Linked DNA regions of Homo sapiens. The protein of the gene in region 1 purifies or fractionates together with the protein of each later gene. This does not show direct contact. Each region holds a gene or a part of one and is shown in the gene's direction. Other genes may lie near its edges. The genes, in order: CHAMP1 and ZNF644.

Evidence for each region.
Region 2: the proteins of CHAMP1 (region 1) and ZNF644 purify together in Homo sapiens (affinity purification with mass spectrometry; 2 studies listed by BioGRID and IntAct, with this or other methods). This does not show direct contact.

Annotation. Positions count from the first base shown.
Region 1 is NC_000013.11:114,315,069-114,324,563, forward strand, and holds part of CHAMP1 (chromosome alignment-maintaining phosphoprotein 1), read left to right. Parts: intron 1-6,041; 5' UTR 6,042-6,164; intron 6,165-6,994; exon of another isoform or gene 6,995-8,719; 5' UTR 8,720-8,774; coding exon 8,775-9,495. UniProt on the Homo sapiens protein: Required for proper alignment of chromosomes at metaphase and their accurate segregation during mitosis. Involved in the maintenance of spindle microtubules attachment to the kinetochore during sister chromatid biorientation.
Region 2 is NC_000001.11:90,912,307-90,922,633, reverse strand, and holds the end of ZNF644 (zinc finger protein 644), read left to right. Parts: intron 1-4,479; coding exon 4,480-4,582; intron 4,583-5,643; coding exon 5,644-5,836; 3' UTR 5,837-7,330; downstream 7,331-10,327.

The DNA of each region.
Region 1 (9,495 bases):
ATGCAACTGACCAACAAAAAGCAACCCAGTTCAAGAATGGGCAAGGAATTTGAATAGATATTTCTCCAGAGAAGAGAGACAAATGGCCAATAAGCACGTGCAGTGATGCTCAACATCACTAACCATTAAGGAAATGCAGATGAAAACCACAATGAGATACCACCTCACACCTGTTAGGGTGGCTATTAAAAAAAAGGGAAATTATGAGTGTTGGGGATGTGGAGAAATTGAAGCTCGGGTGCATTGCTGGTGGGAAAGTAGGGTGGTGCAGCAGCTATGGAAATTGGTAGTCGTTCCTCAGTTCTAGGTTTATACCCCCAAAAATTGACAGCAGAGACTCAGATACTTGTTCACAAATGTTCATCGCAGCATTATTCAAAATCCAGATGTCTATCAACATGTGGATGAAAGGCAAGCTGTGGTATATACATATAATGAATGGACCATTGTTCATCTTTAGAAAGGAATGAAATTCTGATACATGCTGCAATATAAACGAACACATTATACAGTATAAACGAGCACATTGAACACATTATGTTGAGTGAAATAAGACACAAAAAAGACATACTGTATGATTCCCCCTCAGGCACAGAATTGAGATTACCAGCACTGAAAGTGGAGAGTGGAAGTTACTGTTTCATGGGTACAGAATTTCTGTTTGTGGTGAAGAAGTTCTGGAAGTGGATAGTGGTGATGTTTGCACAACGTTTTAGTACTAAACTAACTAAATTGTGCTTTTAAAAATGATTAAATGGCAAGTTTTGTTTTTTTTTTTTTTTTTGAGACGGGAGTTTCGCTCTCGTTGCCCAGGCTGGAGTGCAATGGCCCGACCTTGGCTCACTGCAACCTCCGCCCCCTGGGTTCAAGGGATTCTTTTGCCTCATTCTCCCAAGTAGCTGGCATTACAGGCGCTTGCCACCACACCTGGCTAATTTTGTATTTTTAGTAGAGATAGGGTTTCTCCATGTTGGTCAGGCTGGTTTCGAACTCCTGACCTCAGGTGATCCACCCGCCTCGGCCTTCCAAAGTGCTGAAATTACAGGCATGAACCACCATGTCCGGCCTAAATGGCAAGTTTTTTGTTTTTATTTTTGTTTTTGTTTTTTAATGAGCCAGAGTTTCACTTTTGTTGCCTGGGCTGGAGTGCAGTTATGCGATCTTGGCCCACTGCAGCCTCCGTCTCTCGGATTTAAGCGATTCTCCTGCCTCAGCCTCCCAAGTAGCTGGGATTACAGGCGCCTGCCACCACACCCGGCTAATTTTGTATTTTTAGTAGAGACGAGGTTTCTCCACGTTGGTTAGGCTGCTCTCTGACTTTCAACCTTAGGTGATCCGCCCACCTTGGCCTCCCAAAGTGCTGGGATTACAGGCGTGAGCCTGTGGTGGCGCGCGCCTGTAGTCCCAGCTACTGGGGAGGCTGAGGCAGGAGAATCGCTTGAACCTGGGAGGTGGAGATTGCAGTGAGCCGAGATTGCGCCATTACACTCCAGCCTGGGTGACAGAGCGAGACTCCCTCTCAAAAAAAAATAAATAAATAAAAATGACTCCTTGTGTAAACTATAGACTACTTAATAAATCAGTATTAGCTTATCATTGTAGCAGATATCTCACACTAATGCAAGATGTTAATACAGGTGAAGTATCCTTCATTCGAAATGCTTGGAACCAGAAGTGCTTTGGATTTTTTTTTTTTTTTTTGGATTTTGGAATAGTTGCATTGTACTTACTGGTTAAACATCCGTAATCTGAAATCTAAAATGCTCCTTTTGGCACTCAAAAAGTTTTGGATGTTGGAGCATAATCAGATTTCAGATTTTCAGATTAGGGATGCTCAGCCTGTAGTAGGAAAAACTGGGGACAAGAAGATAGGTGGGAATTCTTGTACATTCCCTTCAGTTTTTCTTCAAACATAAAACTACTTGGAAAATTAGTTTATTAATTTCTTTCTTTTTTGGGTTGGGGGTGAGTATGGAGTCTTACTCTGTTGCCCAGCTGGAGTGCAGTGGCTCAGTCTTGGGTCACTGCAACCTCCGTCTCCCGGGTTCAAGCGATTCTCCTGCCTCAGCCTCCCAGGTAGCTGGGATTATAGGTATGCACCACCACGCCCAGCTAATTTTTGTATTTTTAGTAGAGACAGGGTTTCACCATGTTGGCTGTTGGCCAGGCTGGTCACGAACTCCTGTCCTCAAATGATCCGCCTGCCTTGGCCTCCCAAAGTGTTGGGATTACAGGTGTGAGCCACTGCGCCCGCCCAGTTTATTAATTTCTTAAAGGCCAGGCATGGTAGCTCACACCTGTAATCCCAGCACTTTGAGAGGCCAAGGCAACAAGATCTCTGGAGGCCAGGAGTTCAGGACCAGCCTGGACAACATAGTGAGACCTCATCGCTACAGAAAAAAAAAATTAGCCAGATGTGGTGGCAGGTACCTATGGTCCCAGCTACTTAGGAGGCTGAGGCGGGGGGATCTCTGGAGCCCAGGAGTATGAGGCTGCAGTGAGTTGTGATGGCGTCACTGCACCAAAACCTTGGGCAACAGAGCGAGACCCTGTCTCTAAAAAAGAAAAAAAGTCCGCTAAGATAAAGAACAATGCTAGTGTGTATAGACTAATAGAACCCATTTAGCTTTGAACATGTTCTACTTATTGAATTTTAATTTAAAAAACTATGCATCAGATGTGTTTTAAAAGATGATCAGTGGTGTTCGACTTCAAAGAAGAAATTGAATGGGAGATGGGAAATAGGTATGATACACCATCTGGCATAACATTGCATTGAAGGATACTGGGTGATAGACTGGCAGAGCACCAATGATTAGAATTTAGGTTTTTTAGAGACGAGATGTAATCTGTCTCAAAGACAAAAAGAAATTTTTGTTAATCTGGACAATTCTGAGTTAATTTTTAGTTAGGGTTAGGAGTTCTTAAATTTAGGAAGAAATTTTGCTAGAACCTAAAAGCTGGAAGGACGCCCAGCTCTCTAGGCTTTGCCTAAAAGTTGAATTCTGGGACTAAATTCTGTAACATCTTCGTGGATCGTTCTGCTACTGTGGGAAAGACAGCATTTTGTTACAGCAGAGACCAGAATTGAGAAAACCAGAATAAAAAAACTGTTCCCTCTGACCTCAGTGTTGTGATCTTTGACAGGTCACTTCTTTCCCTCAGCATCAGTCTTTTCAGTTATAAAATGAAGAGGTTGAACTCAAGACCTCTGAAGATCCTTCTAGTCCTATGCTGATCATCATTTTTTTTTTTTTTTGGTTTTCTTTTTTGAGACAGGGTCTCACTCTGTCATCTAGGCTGGAGTGTAATGGTGCAGTCTTGGTTCACTGCAACTCCTGCCTCTCAGGCTCAGGCGATTTCTCTTGCCTCAGGCTCCCGAGTAGCTGGGACTATAGGTGCATTCTGCTGCACCCGGCTAATTTTTGTATGTTTTGTAGAGACGGGGTTTCGCCGTGTTGCCCAGGGTGTTCTTGAACCCCTGAGCTCAAGGGATCCACCTGCCTCAGCCTTCCAGAGTGCTGGGATTACAGGCCTGAGCCACCACACCCGGCCTGATCATCAGATTCTAATTATGGAGTACTCCTACCTGACAAAGGAACTCGTTCTAGTTCATGATAGAGTAGATTGTAAACTGTGTTAAGCCACAATTCTTTTCCTGCTAGCTTCTGATTGTCACTTCTAGGATAGCTCATATATTATCTATAATTCTTCCCCTTTTGAAGTTAAATGTCTTTATTTGTAAATGACTTTTTTTTTTTTAAAGGGCCATCTGCCATCCTGGTTGCCTTTTTTTTTTTTTTTTTTTTTTTTTTTTTAATGTTCCCTAGTTTGTTAGAGACTCTCTTAAAGTGTCCTTCCTGCCCAGAGCTGGGGACAGTGATCCACTGGAATAGTGTACTCTGCCCAGTGCAGAATATGGGATATAGTTCTCTATAGTCCTGTATTTATGCACTTGATATGTGGATTCTAAGTGTTTGTTTCATCTTGTTTATTTTGGACTATTGTACAGGCTTTAAAAGATCTTACTAAATTCCACTGTATTAGTTTGTGTATATCTACAAAGAACCTGGACAGATAGCAGAACTTTATTCTCTCATCAGATACTGATCATTTGTCTGATTTGGGCAAGCTGTTTAATGTCAAGCTTGAGTTTCCTTAACTATAAATTGAAGTTTTAAAGTAGATGATCCCTGAGGTCTTTTCCTACCCTCAAATCCTATGACTTTGAGACTAGATGGTAACTTAGGTTTCCTCTAGTTTTAAAATCCTGTGAGTCTAAGATTGAGAGAATGTTAGGATTGAACAGAGCACATACTGTGTGTCAGGGATGTGCAACGGTTCCAGAGGTGAATAAAGGGATAATAGTCCCTCCTCTCCAGGAGCTGGCATCCTGTTTTTGGTATCAGGCTGTAGTGCCAGAGGGTGACATGTACAGCTGGGGCTTCTAGGAAGATTGGGAAGAAGTGGGGAATTGACCAGTACAGTTGACTCATGAATAACAGAGGTTAGAACTTCAACCAAATGCCAATAAAAAAGAGCGTTTACAGAATGTGAAACATTTATATGGAGGGCAGATGTTTCATATATGGGAATTCCACAAGGCTGACTGTAGGACCTGAGTATGTGTGGATTTTGGCATATGGGGGAAGTCCTGGAACCAGGTCCCTGTGTTTACAGAAAGACAGCTGACTTAAAAAGCTGTCCTGCCTGAAGGATGAAGGAGTTTGCCTGATGGCCGGGTGGCAAGACAGGGAGTGTAAAGGAGAGGAAATAGTTTATACAAATGCACAGACGCTGGAATAGTCAGGGAGTTACATGTGGGCCAGTATTTTGAGAATGCAGTCTGGTCATGGGCCAGACTGTGAAGAGCTTTATATGCCATATTCAAATTGTATACTGTAGGTGTCTTAGTTGACTTGGAGGACATGTGAACAGGCAGATCACATTAGGCTTCTGTTTGGAAGACAGGTTTGGTAGCTGTACGATGAATGGGTTGGAAGAAAAGGAGACTAGTGGCAGGGAGTTCAGATGTCAGAATTAAAGCAGTGATAGGGGTAGGGGATAGAGAAGGGGTAGATGAATGTGCTGGAGCTAATCAGAAGCATAATATGAGCTGTTGTGTAGCTTGTGCATGGCCAGTTTATCACATTCTGTTCCTGTCAGCAGACTCACCCACACCATGATGCTTTATCTTTGAAATGCATGCAGGAAGAGAAGAGGGCAGAGCAATCACTGAAGCAGGTCCATGTGTTCTTCCTTGGGGTCAGGACACTGCCATCCTGCTCCTCCCAGAGTCCTTTCTTTTTGTGCCTCTTGGTCCTCTTTGTTGTGGTGTCCCTTCCTCCACTGCCTGTTAATTTGGCACTCTGCTGTGTAATATCAATAATTGACAAAAGTCAGCCATTGTTATAGTCAGTAGTCACACCAGCAGTCTTCTGAGTGCTTATCAGAGAAGTGAAGTTAGGTGGTGGGTTTGAGAAGGATTTGATTACACACACGGGCATAATTCCATAGTGGATCATTAAAGAGAAAGTAGACAAGGATGGTGTCAGGAGTGGTATCTACTGTAGTCTTTGGTGTCATTTCATAAAAGTAAGTGTTCGGGCTGGGCGCGGTGGCTCACACCTGTAATCCCAGCACTTTGGGAGGCCGAGGCGGGCGGATCACGAGGTCAGGAGATCGAGACCATCCTGGCTAACACGGTGAAACCCCGTCTCTACTAAAAATACAAAAAACTAGCCGGGCGTGGTGGCGGGCGCCTGTAGTCCCAGCTACTCAGGAGGCTGAGGCAGGAGAATGGCATGAACCCTGGAGGCGGAGCTTGCAGTGAGCCGAGATCGCGCCACTGCACTCCAGCCTGGGCGACAGAGCAAGACTCTGTCTCAAAAAAAAAAAAAGTAAGCAGGCTTAGTGGACTGGACTCCTCTCACTGTTAGGGCAGGATGGTGAGAGAAATACACAGAATTCCATTACAGGGGGCACACACGATCACAGATATAGTTTTGATTACTTTTCTTTTTTTTTTTTTTTTTTTCCAGGTTCAACTTCTCATCTTTGTTCTTCTTCATATACTATAGGCTGTTTGCTGTGGTTTAGTCAAAAAGCCATGTAGAATGCCTGCCTTTTGAAGACCACTTTTAAGGTGTCTAGTAAGACAGCAGGTAAGTCTAGTAGGGAAAGCATGCTTAGGAGAATATTTTATGAGGAGAAAATTAAAAAAAAATACCTGGAGTTCTTGAGGAAAATCTCTAAAAGTGTACACGCCCTTATGGATATAATGTGTGTTGTGTGCTAGATATACATAATTTGGGATATGAGAAGTGAATTCTGTAGCATTCTTTGTAGATTTAAGTATGAGATTGGCCTGAAGAGCTGGTGGTAGGCAGCGGGAAGAGGAGGGATGGCTGGGAGGAATGGGGAATGGTAGGTGAGTCAGACTCAAACCCAGCACACCTGAGCTCTTAGTCTCTGTTGTAATTACAATATGTAATATAGTGCTCTTTAATATTAGCTTGGCTGTTCATTATTGCCAGTTGGGCTGTTCATTATTGCCTCATGGGATTATTGAGACATATCCTACGTTTTCCCCTAAAGTCTTCTAGTTTTATTTAACAATGGGCTCTGAGACGGATGGTTAACCCATTATTTTTCCATGCATTCAATTACGTTTGTAAGTTAAAGATCATTTTCAGAGATTTTTCATCAGTACGGAATTATTTATTTTTCTTTTGTTACAGTCCTGGCCCCAAAACAGTTTTCTAAAATACAGGATAACTGCTGGGCAACTCAGAAAGAGTAAATAGTTTCCGAAGAAAAGTATTTGTTTCCTCAAGTATCTGTCACCTTTTTAGCTTTAGATCAAAAAATAAAAAAGGCAAATGATATACCTTGGATAAAAGTGTTAGGAAGCAGTATTGCCAGTGAGAACATCTTTAAAAACAAATTATCAAAGTTAGAAATGTTAATTTTTTTTTTTTTTTTTTTTTTTGAGATGGAGTCTTGCTCTGTCACCAGGCTGGAATGCAGCGGCATGATCTCAGCTCTCTGCAACCTCCGACTTCTGGTCCAAGCGATTGGCCTGCCTCAGCCTCCCAAGTAGCTGGGACTACAGGCACACGCCACCACGCCTGGCTAATTTTTGTATTTTTAGTAGAGATGGGGTTTCACCATGTTGGCCATGATGGTCTTGATCTCCCGACCTCGTGATCTGCCTGCCCGGCCTCCCAAAGTGCTGAGATTACAGGCATGAGCCACTGCGCCCAGCCTATACATTTTTTTAAAATAATGGTTTTGTAATTAATAAAGGGAGAGCCTGCATTTCTAATCTGTACTGTTCTTTGAGGAGGAGTAAATATCATTACCGTCAATAAGGGAAGGTGTTCAGTCTTTCTCATTAAAGAGAAGCACATTAACACAATAGTGAAATACTAGCTTTCACCTAGGTTGTAGCAAGGATTAGGAATTTATAGGAAATTGTCTCTCATATATACACGTTGTTATGCAGTAATAGAAGTTTTTGAGAGTTTGGTAAAATGTATCAATTTTACACACAAATGGCCAAGTAATCCATTGCTAGGAATTTTCCCTGCAGAAATACCCTCACATGCACAGATAAGTACAGGGAAAGTCAGTGCTTATTCCATATGTAAAAATGTCTTAGAGATAAATTCTAAATGAGAGTAAGTTGCCAGATAATATGTTTAATATCCCATTTGTGTAAAGCATGTGTGTTGATCAATATATGCTTAGGACATTTCTTCCAGGACACATGAGTACACTGGCTACCCCTAGGGACTGACACTCTGTATCTCGTACTGTGTGAATGTGTTTTTAACTGTGAGCTTCTATTCCCTTTACTACTTAAGAAGACTGGTTTACAATTTTTTTAAATTCATGTTTTCCGGCAACTGTGTTCCAGCTGCTGGGGTGTCCTCTGATTTGCCCTTTGGTTGGTATGCGCCTTCACATCATTCAGGATCTCTGCTGGAATGTCCCATGCATAGAGGTCTTTTCCAACGGCCTCTACATCACTCTCCACCTTATCTTTCCAACTCATGAACGCCATATTGCAAAGCACTGCTTTAAGCCTAAGTGCCTAGAACATTGTAGGACACAAAGTTATTTATTTATTAAATGAATTAATAGAATACTATATTGGGATAGATTAAACATTACAAAATATGTTGACATGAAATCAAGCCAGCATCATGTTTTAAAGTCATCTTTTTATAGCTAGATTTAATTTATTAAGTGCTTTCTGCAAAAGTTTTAGTCTCTTGTTCATCCTTAAATAGCCAAGATTTAATTTTGATATTCACTCATCTTTGTGTGCTGAGGACTTTTGTACTCGGAGTTTGAGAGTCAAAGTATAAAGCACATGCAATAGCTAATTCTAGAGTCAGGCTCACATCACTGATAGTCCTATAGCCTGGACCAGAGAAAGTCAGGTAACTTCTCTGAACCTGTTTCTTCATCTGTAAGTGAAAATAATAGTTGAGTCATATCATTAGGATTAAATGAGATGATGTATGTGAAACTCCTAGCAGAGTGCCTGGGACTGTTCTATATCTCCTTTTTCTTCAAATTCTCCCTAGAGATACTATCAAATAAAGCACGCACTGTTCTAGACTTAAAATTATGCAGTTATAGAATGGACTGACAGCATTTTATTCAGAATTACAGTTCATGAAAATAATTTATTCCTACTTTATTGCAGCAGTATTGAAAGTTTTTAAAGAATATAACCGTGTGTGTTGGTAACAGACAGAAGAATGGAAGCATTCCAGGAACTTCGTAAACCATCAGCACGTTTGGAGTGTGACCATTGCAGTTTCAGAGGCACAGACTATGAAAATGTACAAATCCATATGGGTACCATCCATCCAGAATTTTGTGATGAAATGGATGCTGGTGGGCTAGGCAAAATGATATTTTACCAGAAAAGTGCAAAGTTATTTCACTGCCATAAATGCTTCTTCACCAGCAAGATGTACTCTAATGTATACTATCACATCACATCCAAACATGCATCCCCAGACAAATGGAATGATAAACCAAAAAATCAGTTGAACAAAGAAACAGATCCTGTGAAAAGCCCTCCTCTTCCTGAACACCAGAAAATACCCTGCAATTCAGCAGAACCAAAATCCATACCTGCCCTTTCAATGGAAACACAGAAACTTGGTTCAGTTTTGTCTCCAGAATCGCCAAAACCTACTCCTCTTACTCCCCTGGAGCCTCAGAAACCTGGCTCTGTTGTTTCTCCTGAGCTACAGACACCTCTTCCTTCTCCTGAGCCTTCAAAACCTGCCTCTGTTTCTTCTCCTGAACCTCCAAAATCAGTCCCTGTTTGTGAGTCTCAGAAACTTGCCCCTGTTCCTTCTCCAGAACCACAGAAACCTGCCCCTGTATCTCCTGAGTCAGTAAAGGCTACTCTTAGTAATCCCAAACCCCAGAAGCAGTCTCATTTCCCGGAAACATTGGGGCCACCTT
Region 2 (10,327 bases), on another chromosome or scaffold:
CAAACCTGCACGTGTACCCCTGAAGTTAAAATAAAGGTTTAAAAAAAAGAGTTGAGTTTATTTTTCTTACACTTGTGTATCCTTTGGCATGTGTGCATCCTCTTCCCACCTCACCACTGCCAGCACGACCTCCAGCACCAACTTTTTAATAGTGATAGAATGATGATTTACCTGTTCGTGTCATGTTTATTCCTACTGTAGTTCTGAATGAGCTCATAGCTAATATTGTCCACCAAACTTAACACAGGCCAACCACTTAGAGAAGAAATTTTCTTCCCTCTCGTAGGGGTATACTGTGCCTCTTACTTTGGGTATAGATACCCCAGTTGTTTCACTTTGTCCTAGAGATACCAGCAACCAATTAGAAAAGAAATGGATTAAACAAGACTTTTAAGTTATTGGGCAGGTGAGAATGATTACAAATAAAAATACTTCGGTGGCGAATGTTAATTTAGTTATGGTGTGCTTTATCAAAGAAGTTCCAGATGTTTTTATGAAATCTCATTCTCTTGGGTCATTTATATCGTGAAGGAAAAAGAAAATGAAACTCATTGAAGCAATTATTGTATAAAATGGGCAGAAAGGTGGAAAGAGCAAAAGATTTTAATGTCAAAGTCAAAAGTAAATTCTTAATCTTCTTTGTATAAAACTAAATAATGGCTCAGAAAACAGACTTGAATTTTTATGTGTTGTGTTATCTATTTATTTGCTTTGCACCAATCTGGTTTAGTGCTTTGGCATGTTGTTGTCGTCATGGTCATTGGTCGTCGTATTCATAGCATAGCAGTGTGGTGTTCTTTTTGAGGACTCATGAGTTTATTGTATTTCTCTTTCATATTTGTATTTGACCAAGACAAATATCTTACTGAAAGGTATATTCTATTTTTTTTTTTTGCATTTGACCTTACAGCTCAATTTATTCTCCGTATGAGTAAAATATTCTCAGTAGCAATTTAGATCTTTTATAAATCAGGTAACTTGAAAGATAACAGTCTTTTGGTTGAAATTGATCACTTAAACAGTTTCTGCCCACCGAATAGTAATCTTAGGAAGGTTTGGATGACTGGATTTGTTTCTTTCTATAGAAGCTTATGCTTGAGAAGAAAATTAATACTTTCTAAAAATAATTTTTTAATATATTTAAAGTATAGAAACAATGTTAGATTTAAAATACTTTGTAAAGAGAAAAGAGTGTGTGGGTTTTTTGTTTTTAAGTTCCTTGGAGTTTTTTGGTCACTAACAAGTGCAAATAAAATCCTATTACAAAAAAAGGCTTTGTGTAACAGTTATCTATTTGGCAGATTATTCATATAAACAACTCTGTTAAAGCTTTGGCTGTTTATCACAGATACTGATGAGCTGCATTATATTAAAACTGAATGTGTTAGTGATCTGTATTTAATGTTCTAGTGGCTCCTGGTACAGTCCAGAACAAAACTACTTTTCCCTCTAGATATAATAAAATCTCTTAAGTGAGAATATTGGTATAACAGACATGTTTCTACCTCATCCTTTTCATTTATTGAAATTTTCTGTGTAAATCATCCTTTTATGTAGAGGATCCTATATAGATGTCCCCTTTTTGTGCAGTTTTAATATGTTAAATACTCAATTTTAAACAGATTTTCCCAAAGGTATGGGCAGTATCACAGGAGTGGGTTTGGATATTGGCATTAGAAAAACTATTGTAAAATATGTTCATGTTTCACCTGCTCAAAAATATAACATTTCAGGAGATAATAAATCTAGAATTGATGAAGATATTAAAACACTGAGGCATTTAGATTTCAATTTCCAAAGTTCCCAGATTTTTAATATTTTAACTTTGTGAATAAGTTTCTAGGGATTCTCAGTGCATGAGATTCTGTAACCTTAACTTTGGAGCCCTGGGTTCTAGAGATGATTGATCAGTCATAAGCTGGCAGAGTTGTCCTGCTTTCCAAGGTTATAATACCTTCAAATACTCATTGCTACAAAAATGATGGCATTCTCATTTCAAGTTTAGATCTGATCATTCATAAAACAGCCTAAACTTAAGAGTTTCCACAGTCCATAAAGCATCAAAAGCCATAAAATAATTCTTTTTTCCCTATTAAAGAAAAAGCCAAAAATATTTCTGTATTTTAGAATAAACATTTCCAGTTCCATTTTTAAAATATTAACAACATGTAAATTTAAATGCTTTTGTAACTGATAAAATGTTCTTTTGCATATTTCCCTACCATCCTCCTGCCCTTCTTCCTCAATTTGCTTTACACCCCTAACATTAACATTCTGTGAACAAATTTTTAAGGGTTGTTATAATGTATTCTATTTGTATCCTACAGTAATTTATTTGCATTTTAAAAGGAGTTTGAATACAGTGTGGCAATTTTGACAACCAGCAAGCTCATCAAAGTAAGATTCTACCTGTAATCTTATGATACACCAAATGCCTGCTCTATTCTGCCTAACACAGACAAGGATCCATCTTTACAGATGGAAAGAATAGCTGACATCTAGTAGCACTTACTCTTTGAGTTCCCTGAACTCTATTTCTAGTGTATGAATCACTCATAACCCACTTAAATTCAGATTGCTCACCAAAGCGATTAGGAAAAAGGTTTTTCCTACTGGGTACAAAGCATAAGGTATTTCACTCTTGTAGTTGTTGTGAATAACCTAGTTTCTGTACATAAGCTGGCTGGTCAGTGATTTATATCTAGGATAATGAAGTATGTGTGACTGCAGCAACATATTTAAACAAATGATGCACAATGTTGTACAGGAATATTACCTGTATTAAATAGGAGTAAAACATTTTCATTCATAGGCTGTCTAAATATCAATGGTTAAATTACTGAGTTTTGCTTTATTTTTACTCCAGAAGTATTTGTTGAGTTCCTACTACATGCGAGGCTCTTGACTGAGATAACTAATAAGATCCTTATAAGATTTTTCTATTCCAGAGTTTGGTTGTTTAGCTTTGAATTACCCATTCTTTAATACCTAACTTGACTTCTAGTAGTTCTTTACTTATTAGACTCTTCTTCTAAGGATAAACAGAAAAAGACTGTGTCCTAGATTTTACTTTTGAATAGGCAGGTGACAGGAAGCTGAAACCAGTGGCTTCAATGAGATTTAGGTTTCTTGTGGTTTTGAATTTTCTATATGACATTTCTGTTATCATTGCCATTTGACTAAGGAACTATGTTTACTGGTTTTGTAATAGTAGCATCTATTCTTTTGGAATCTGGACTTTGAACAATTCGTTTCACAGAGTCATTGAACAGCCAGTTCCTTCTCTCTTACTTAGAATTTTTCCAGGGAATTTTTCACATGGCAGGATAATGGAAGAAAAGCCATTTGGGTAACTCTTCTGTTACATTTGTATCCCTCCCCCCTTGGATCCCTACAGATAAATTCTTACCTTCTCTTCCTGCTAATTGACCAGCAGCACCCTGGATTGCTATCATCCCTTTGTCCAAAGAAATGGTGTAGCTGTATTCAAAGACCTATAAAATGTTATGTGCTATCTATTGCTACCTATAAAAAATACCTTTTTTTCTTTTTAAAATCAGGTTGTTTTAGAATAAATAAAGGAAAAGTCAATTAATGGAAAAATTTCAAGAACAGTTCACATAAAATTTTGGTCTATTTTAATTTTTTTTTTTACCTTTTCAAATCACATTTTAAAATAAGCAGTTGGAGAAAATGTAAAATGAAAAATATGTAAAGAATAGTTAGCATTAAACATCAGATCCAATTGTAAACTTACGTGAGATAATATGGATTTATATTTATTTTCTAGTAAAATAAAACTTATATGATTGCATAATTGATTATTGTATATGCAATACAAATTAAGTTCAAAAATGAAAGTTGAGCTTTTTTTGTCCTTTCAAATGTAGGGCCAGCATACAATTTTAAGAGCTATTTATTATAAAATTCATGGTGAATCACTATGAAAATTGATTTTTCCTTGAGCTTTTAATTACATTATCCATATTCCCTTACGAAGTTTTCCAAGTATAGAAGACCTACTTAATGGAGCAGTAATCAAATGCAAACTTAATTTAATGATCTCAAATAAAAGGTTCTACTTTTCTGGAAATAAGATTAAACCAGATATTAAAATTATGTATGATTATAAAAGTAAAGATTACCATTATTGTAATAATTGACCAATTTAGTACTTTCAAGTTATTTAGTTACATTTTCTCAGTTCTAGTTTGGTGTGGTAAAGCATTATTTGAAAAGGCAGTATAGGAAGAATACAGATAGTATTCTTCAGTACAGATAATACCGCTGTACAGTACAGATAATATTACTGCTATTACAGAATCAGCAAGTTGAATGCATGCTTCAGGGAATAGGGAAATGAATGCGGACTTTTTCTAACTGATTTAGATGGTCTGTCTGACCTCTCTAGAAAAATATGTGTGTATGTATATTTTGAAATATATAAGGAATGTTAAGTCTTTCTCTTCCCCTTTTTAGCCTTAGATTGTAAGCAAAAGAAATCAAGGTCAAGATCTGGAAGCAAGAAGAAAATGCTAACATTACCTCATGGTGCTGACGAGGTTTACATTCTCCGATGCAGGTATATGCCTATATTGCCAAATCTGATCAGTTTCTTCATACTTTGCTTTGAAACATATTAGCTATTTCATTTGGGATTTTTAATTTGTGGCAGAGTGCATTCTCAACAATCAAGTTATAAATGAACTTTTGGAGATAGGCTTAAAATCTTAATTCAGCTCACAATATCCGTACTTCAACAACTAATGAATCAAGTTTTTTACATTAGCCAATAGTAATGTAAATCTATTATACTGTGATTTATTAAAGTAGCTTGGCCAGGTGTGGTGGCTCATGCCTGTAATTCCAGCACTTTGGGTGGCCAAGATGGGTGGATCACTTGAGGCCAGGAGTTCAAGAGCAGCCTGGCCAACATGATGAAACCTCGTGTCTACTAAAAATACCAAAATTAGCCAGGCTTTGTAGCGGGTGCCTGTAATCCCAGCTACTTGGGAGGCTGAGGCAGGAGAATTGCTTGAGCCCAGGAGGCAGAGGTTGCAGTGGGCCGAGATCGTGCCACTGCACTCCAGCCTGAGCGACAGAGCAAGACTCTGTCTCAGAAAAAAGAAAAAAAAACTGGCTTTCCTTGTGTTTATTTGGTTTGTATGGTTTAATTTTGTTTGGTTTGATGTTTTGTTGTCTTGAGTTCTCGCTTATTGGGAACACATTTTCTCTCCCCTCATAGTCACGCCTTCTTCCGTACTCACACTCACACACAACACACATGAAGAAACATAGACACAATGCCATTTAAGGAATGCTAAACTGGGGAAGGGTCTTTTCTAAAGAATGACATATTTTGGAGTAATAGTTGTTGTTTCAAGTGAATTAAGATGTGTAGATGTTAATTTTAAAATAATAATGCTCCCACCTATACAAAGATTACTGGAGTTTATTATAGCTGTTAATAAACATATGAATTGGGAGTTTTGATGTTTTATTAAATCATTTGACTTTAGAAACTTTATCAATTGCTGTCTTTAAAATATGATAAAGTTTATTCCTTATGTTTTAGGATTTTGTGTGAATTAGTTTTAAAGAAAGAGAATTGGTCATGTTAAGAGAATTGTTATCTTTCTGTAGGTTTTGTGGCCTAGTCTTTCGAGGACCCTTGTCTGTTCAGGAAGACTGGATTAAGCACTTACAACGACATATTGTAAACGCTAATCTTCCACGGACTGGAGCTGGCATGGTGGAAGTCACGTCACTACTTAAAAAGCCTGCCTCCATTACAGAAACTTCATTTTCTCTACTAATGGCCGAAGCAGCTTCATAGAACCAGGAAACCTTTTAAATAGCCAGTTTGAATTGGATGTAAATTTGAAATTCTTTTTTTTTAAGCCACATTAAATTATCTGTTTATAAATACTAAAGCAGGAAAATGGGGGGAAAGTGAATTACAGTGACATCAGAGCAAATTGAATACTTAAAACAGTAAGTAGTCTATATATTTTATATAGGGTGGAAGATGTGTTTTTAAGGTTTATGAAGTTTTGTTGGTTAACTGTGTTCACTCAGTAAAAGAGCAGTACATGTAAGCAGCCATTAATAAACTGTTGCACATGGATACTTATAGACAGACTTATTGGACAATTATGTTTTTTGCAGTGTTACCAGAATCAAGGCTCTGTTTATTCCCCACAAGACTTGCATAGAAAAATAAGATATTATATTTTGTTTGTATGTATTTAGTGTTTTGTATAATACCAAGAACCGCTGACTAAATTTACTCAAATTAGGGCATTAAATATCATGTACTTCATAGTTTGAGACTGTTCACTCAAATAGGGCAGAGTACTATTCTATCTAGATGTGTAAGTGTTTTTTTTAAAATCACATGGAACGGTTTTTTTTATACTAAAAAGTGGAGGGAGATTTGTTTAAACAAGTATTTCTAAAAGAAATATGTACATAGTTCTGGAAATTATTTGTGGTAAGGAAATATTCTTTACTCCAGTTGCATTTCTCAGACAATAAAGTGGTGCATCCATGCTACCTCCTACTTTGTCAACAAAGATGCTATTTACCCTTTACATTTTTGTATCATAATAGATTTTAAAAATCTAATGTTCTTTATTGCAAGACATTCTTTTGTTAACAGGTTTGTTTCTTTTTAATGTTTTACCTAAAATTTGACATGCTTACAGGACAGGTTTGCCTCTTACTTTATTTAACATTGTAGAAATGTAATTAATAAACAATGCTCACTACACAGTTTAGAATAGACGTTCTCATTTATATTATCTTCCAAATTTGATCAGTTAGCAAAACTTAATACACCAATTAAAATATTTCTACATATGAGAATGTTTACAATTTAAATTTTAGAACTTGTTTTGGATGTGATTATATGTACGAAAATCGTGTAACACTATGCTCATGCTAAGAACCGACATAACAGAATTACTGAAATAAATGTGCTGTGAGGAATGGAAAATATGGTGCAGGTGTCTTGGTCATGATAAATTGTGATTCTTTTTAAAAATTTTTTCCAAAAACAATTAGGTATTTTAATCTGAAATCAGATTCCTTTACAAACAACAAGTTTTTGTATGCAAGCACCATTTTATTTCATGTAGTATGGCTAATACTATAGTTGAACCAAGGATATGCATTGATTCTTTGCTTCGTATGTAAATAAAGTTAAAAACAGTTAAAATAAGGAGTATTTTGGTAGAGTATATACATACCTCACTGCCAGTGAAATTGCTTTCCTATGGTATATCTCCTTACCAGAAAAATCTCTAAATAAAAAAAGGTTTAAAGAAAATTAAAATGTGAAACATTTCTTATTTTTATCATTGGTGGTAATAGTTCACTTCAGGTTGTGTTTCATTGGATTTAAATTGTTTATCCTTGCCAGGTTACTTGGATCACAGAGCATAGTTTTTCTAGAATCACCTCATTGGTCAATATAATGTATGTGAGAAAAATCATTTTCCCCCTTTCATGATTAATCAAACCTCTAAATTCAGAGCCATCTTATATGCAAAATTAGAAGGTTGGACTAGTTGGATCATTCCCAACCAAGGGTCTCCTGATCCTTAGGTTAATAGATAAGGGAATAGTACTTGTAAGTTATTTTCAATTTTACAAAAGTCCCGATAAAAACTATGTATTTGTCTATAGTGACAAAACTAACTAAAACATCCCATTTCTTTACTTTTGACTGAAAATATACCAAGTCTGTATATATTGGTTATCTCTTACTGAACAAGTTTCGTTGATAGTTATATGTCTTTGAATATATATTTTTAAATTGGAAGACATACTACATAGCAAGTGGAGTCCAGAAGTAAAAACCAAACAAACAAACAAAAATCATAGGAATCTTGTGGGAAGGCTAGTAATCACTAGAGCCCCTTTCCACTCTAATTCTTTTTTTTTTTCTTTAAAGACAGAGTTTTACTCTGTCACCCAGGCTGGAGTGCAATGGTGTGATCATATCTCACTGCAGACTCAACCTCTCAGGACTCAAGTGATCCTCCCACTTCAGCCTCCCAAGTAGCTGGAATTAAAAGCACATGTCATCACTCTTGGCTAGTTTTTGTATTTTTCGTAGAGACAGAGTTTTACCATGTTGCCCAGGCTGTGCTTGAACTCCTGGGCTCAAGAGATCCTTCCGCCTCCGCCTCTCAAAGTGTTGAGATTACAGGCATGAGCCACCACACCTGGCCTCCTAATTCTTACACTTCTATGATTTTGTCTTATCAGGCCAAATATCAACATGTGTGAATACAAGTAGAAGAATTAGTTTGACCACAAGTTTCGGAATCAAAACTACATTTAATTTTAAAATATGTTGAACTATATGTAAACAATTATTTCTCCTTCTAGTTATATAAAGAATTCAGTCATCAGAATAAAATATTTCACATCAGAAACAGTAGACTAGAGTGACTCCTGAAAAGTAAATTAAGCAAAGAGCATTTTTCATAGTAAAGATATTTGGGTTACAAAATTTAAAGAATTCTTTAGGAAGCATTCAAAATTCGTCTTTTATTTGGCAACTAGAAAATTAATAATATGTTTTCATTTGGTTCCCACTAGAAGAAAAGTATAAAATATTGTCTCAATTTACATGATAGATTTTTATGTCAGCATATGGCCTGATTTATCATTCAGTATTGACTAATTTTCTTTTAATTCTTTTACCATTGCCTGAGATATGCAAGCTTCTAATGCTAAATTAGGGCTTTAAAAAATTCCAGTCTGGGCCAGGCGCAGTGGCTCACGCCTGTAATCCCAGCACTTTGGGAGGCCGAGGCGGGCGGATCGCGAAGTCGGGAGATCGAGACCATCCTGGCTAACACAGTGAAACCCCGTCTCTACTAAAAATACAAAAAAATTAGCAGGCGTTGCTGCGTGCGCCTCTAGTCCCAGCTGCTGGGGAGGCTGAGGCAGGAGAATGGCATGAACCTGGGAGGTGGAGCTTGCAGTGAGCCAAGATGGTGCCACTGCACTACAGCCTGGGTGACAGAGCAAGACTCCGTCTCAAAAAAAAAAAAAAATTCCAGGCTGCAGTGTTGATTTATTTAATGGCTTCAAGACAAAAAGGTTAACTTCTATGTATTATTTTCCACTATACTTCTTTAGAGTATATTAGAACTGTGGCATAACTCATATCTGTATTTTAGATTTTACTTATTTAATTATGGGTTGGGGAGATAATGATTTCTCAGTAATTTACTAGACAAACTTTTTTAAAGGACATATACATAACTTCTCAAGGACTGTCCAATTAGAATACAAAGTCCAAAGGATCACTCTGGGTTTTTCCTCACTAAGAAAATGTAATAGACCAGGCACAGTAGCTCACGCCTGTAATCCCAGCACTTTTGCAGGCTGAGGTAGAAGGATCACTTGAGCCCAGGAGTTCAAAATCAGCCTGAGCAACATAGTAAGACCCCATCTCTGAAAGAATTAAAAAAAAAGGCATGGTGGTGTGCACCAGTAGTCCCAGCTACTCAGGAGGCTGAGGTGGGAGGATTGCTTGAGCCCAGGAGTTCAAGGTGAACACAGTGAGCTATGACCATGCCACTGCCCTCCATACTGGGGCAACAGAGTGAGGCCCAGTCTCTTAAAAAAAAAAATGTAATCTATGCCCATTTAAAAAATATTAGAAAAACAAAAAAATAAAAATTGGGGAAATCACCTGTGATAGTATCACTCAAAGATACCTACTTTTAAATAGCTTGATATATTTATTTCTTTTATCTATCTTACTATTTCAATATAATTATGATCAGAATGTATTATAACGTATCTTGTTTTACCATTAATTTTAAATTCAGGTGCTGTATTGTATAGATTAACCTTTGAATACCACATAAATATATGTTAACCCTTGAATGTGACAGAAGCCAGTCCCCATCTGTGATATTTCAAATGACAGACTAGAATCACTTTTCATCCCCACTGCAGAAGATAGCTATCATATTTATTTCAACAATGGGAACTTGTTTTCTTATTTTGAGGGCCAGCCACATTCAATTATAGATCTTTCATCAGTAGCCATACCTTTACTACAACCTTGGTTTTTCTTATCACAAATTATTGAATAATACCTGTAATAGTTTAGGCAAACGACAACTGTAATAATAAATAAAATTTACAGAATTGATTCTTCATACTGCATGGTTCTTAGATTAGACCAGAAGTCAAGGTGAACAAAGAGTGCATATAATCTAATAAATTATTGATTTATTTCTTGTTAAAATTTTAGATAAGAAAAAGAAAAAAATACTTATAATTCCCTACATTAAAA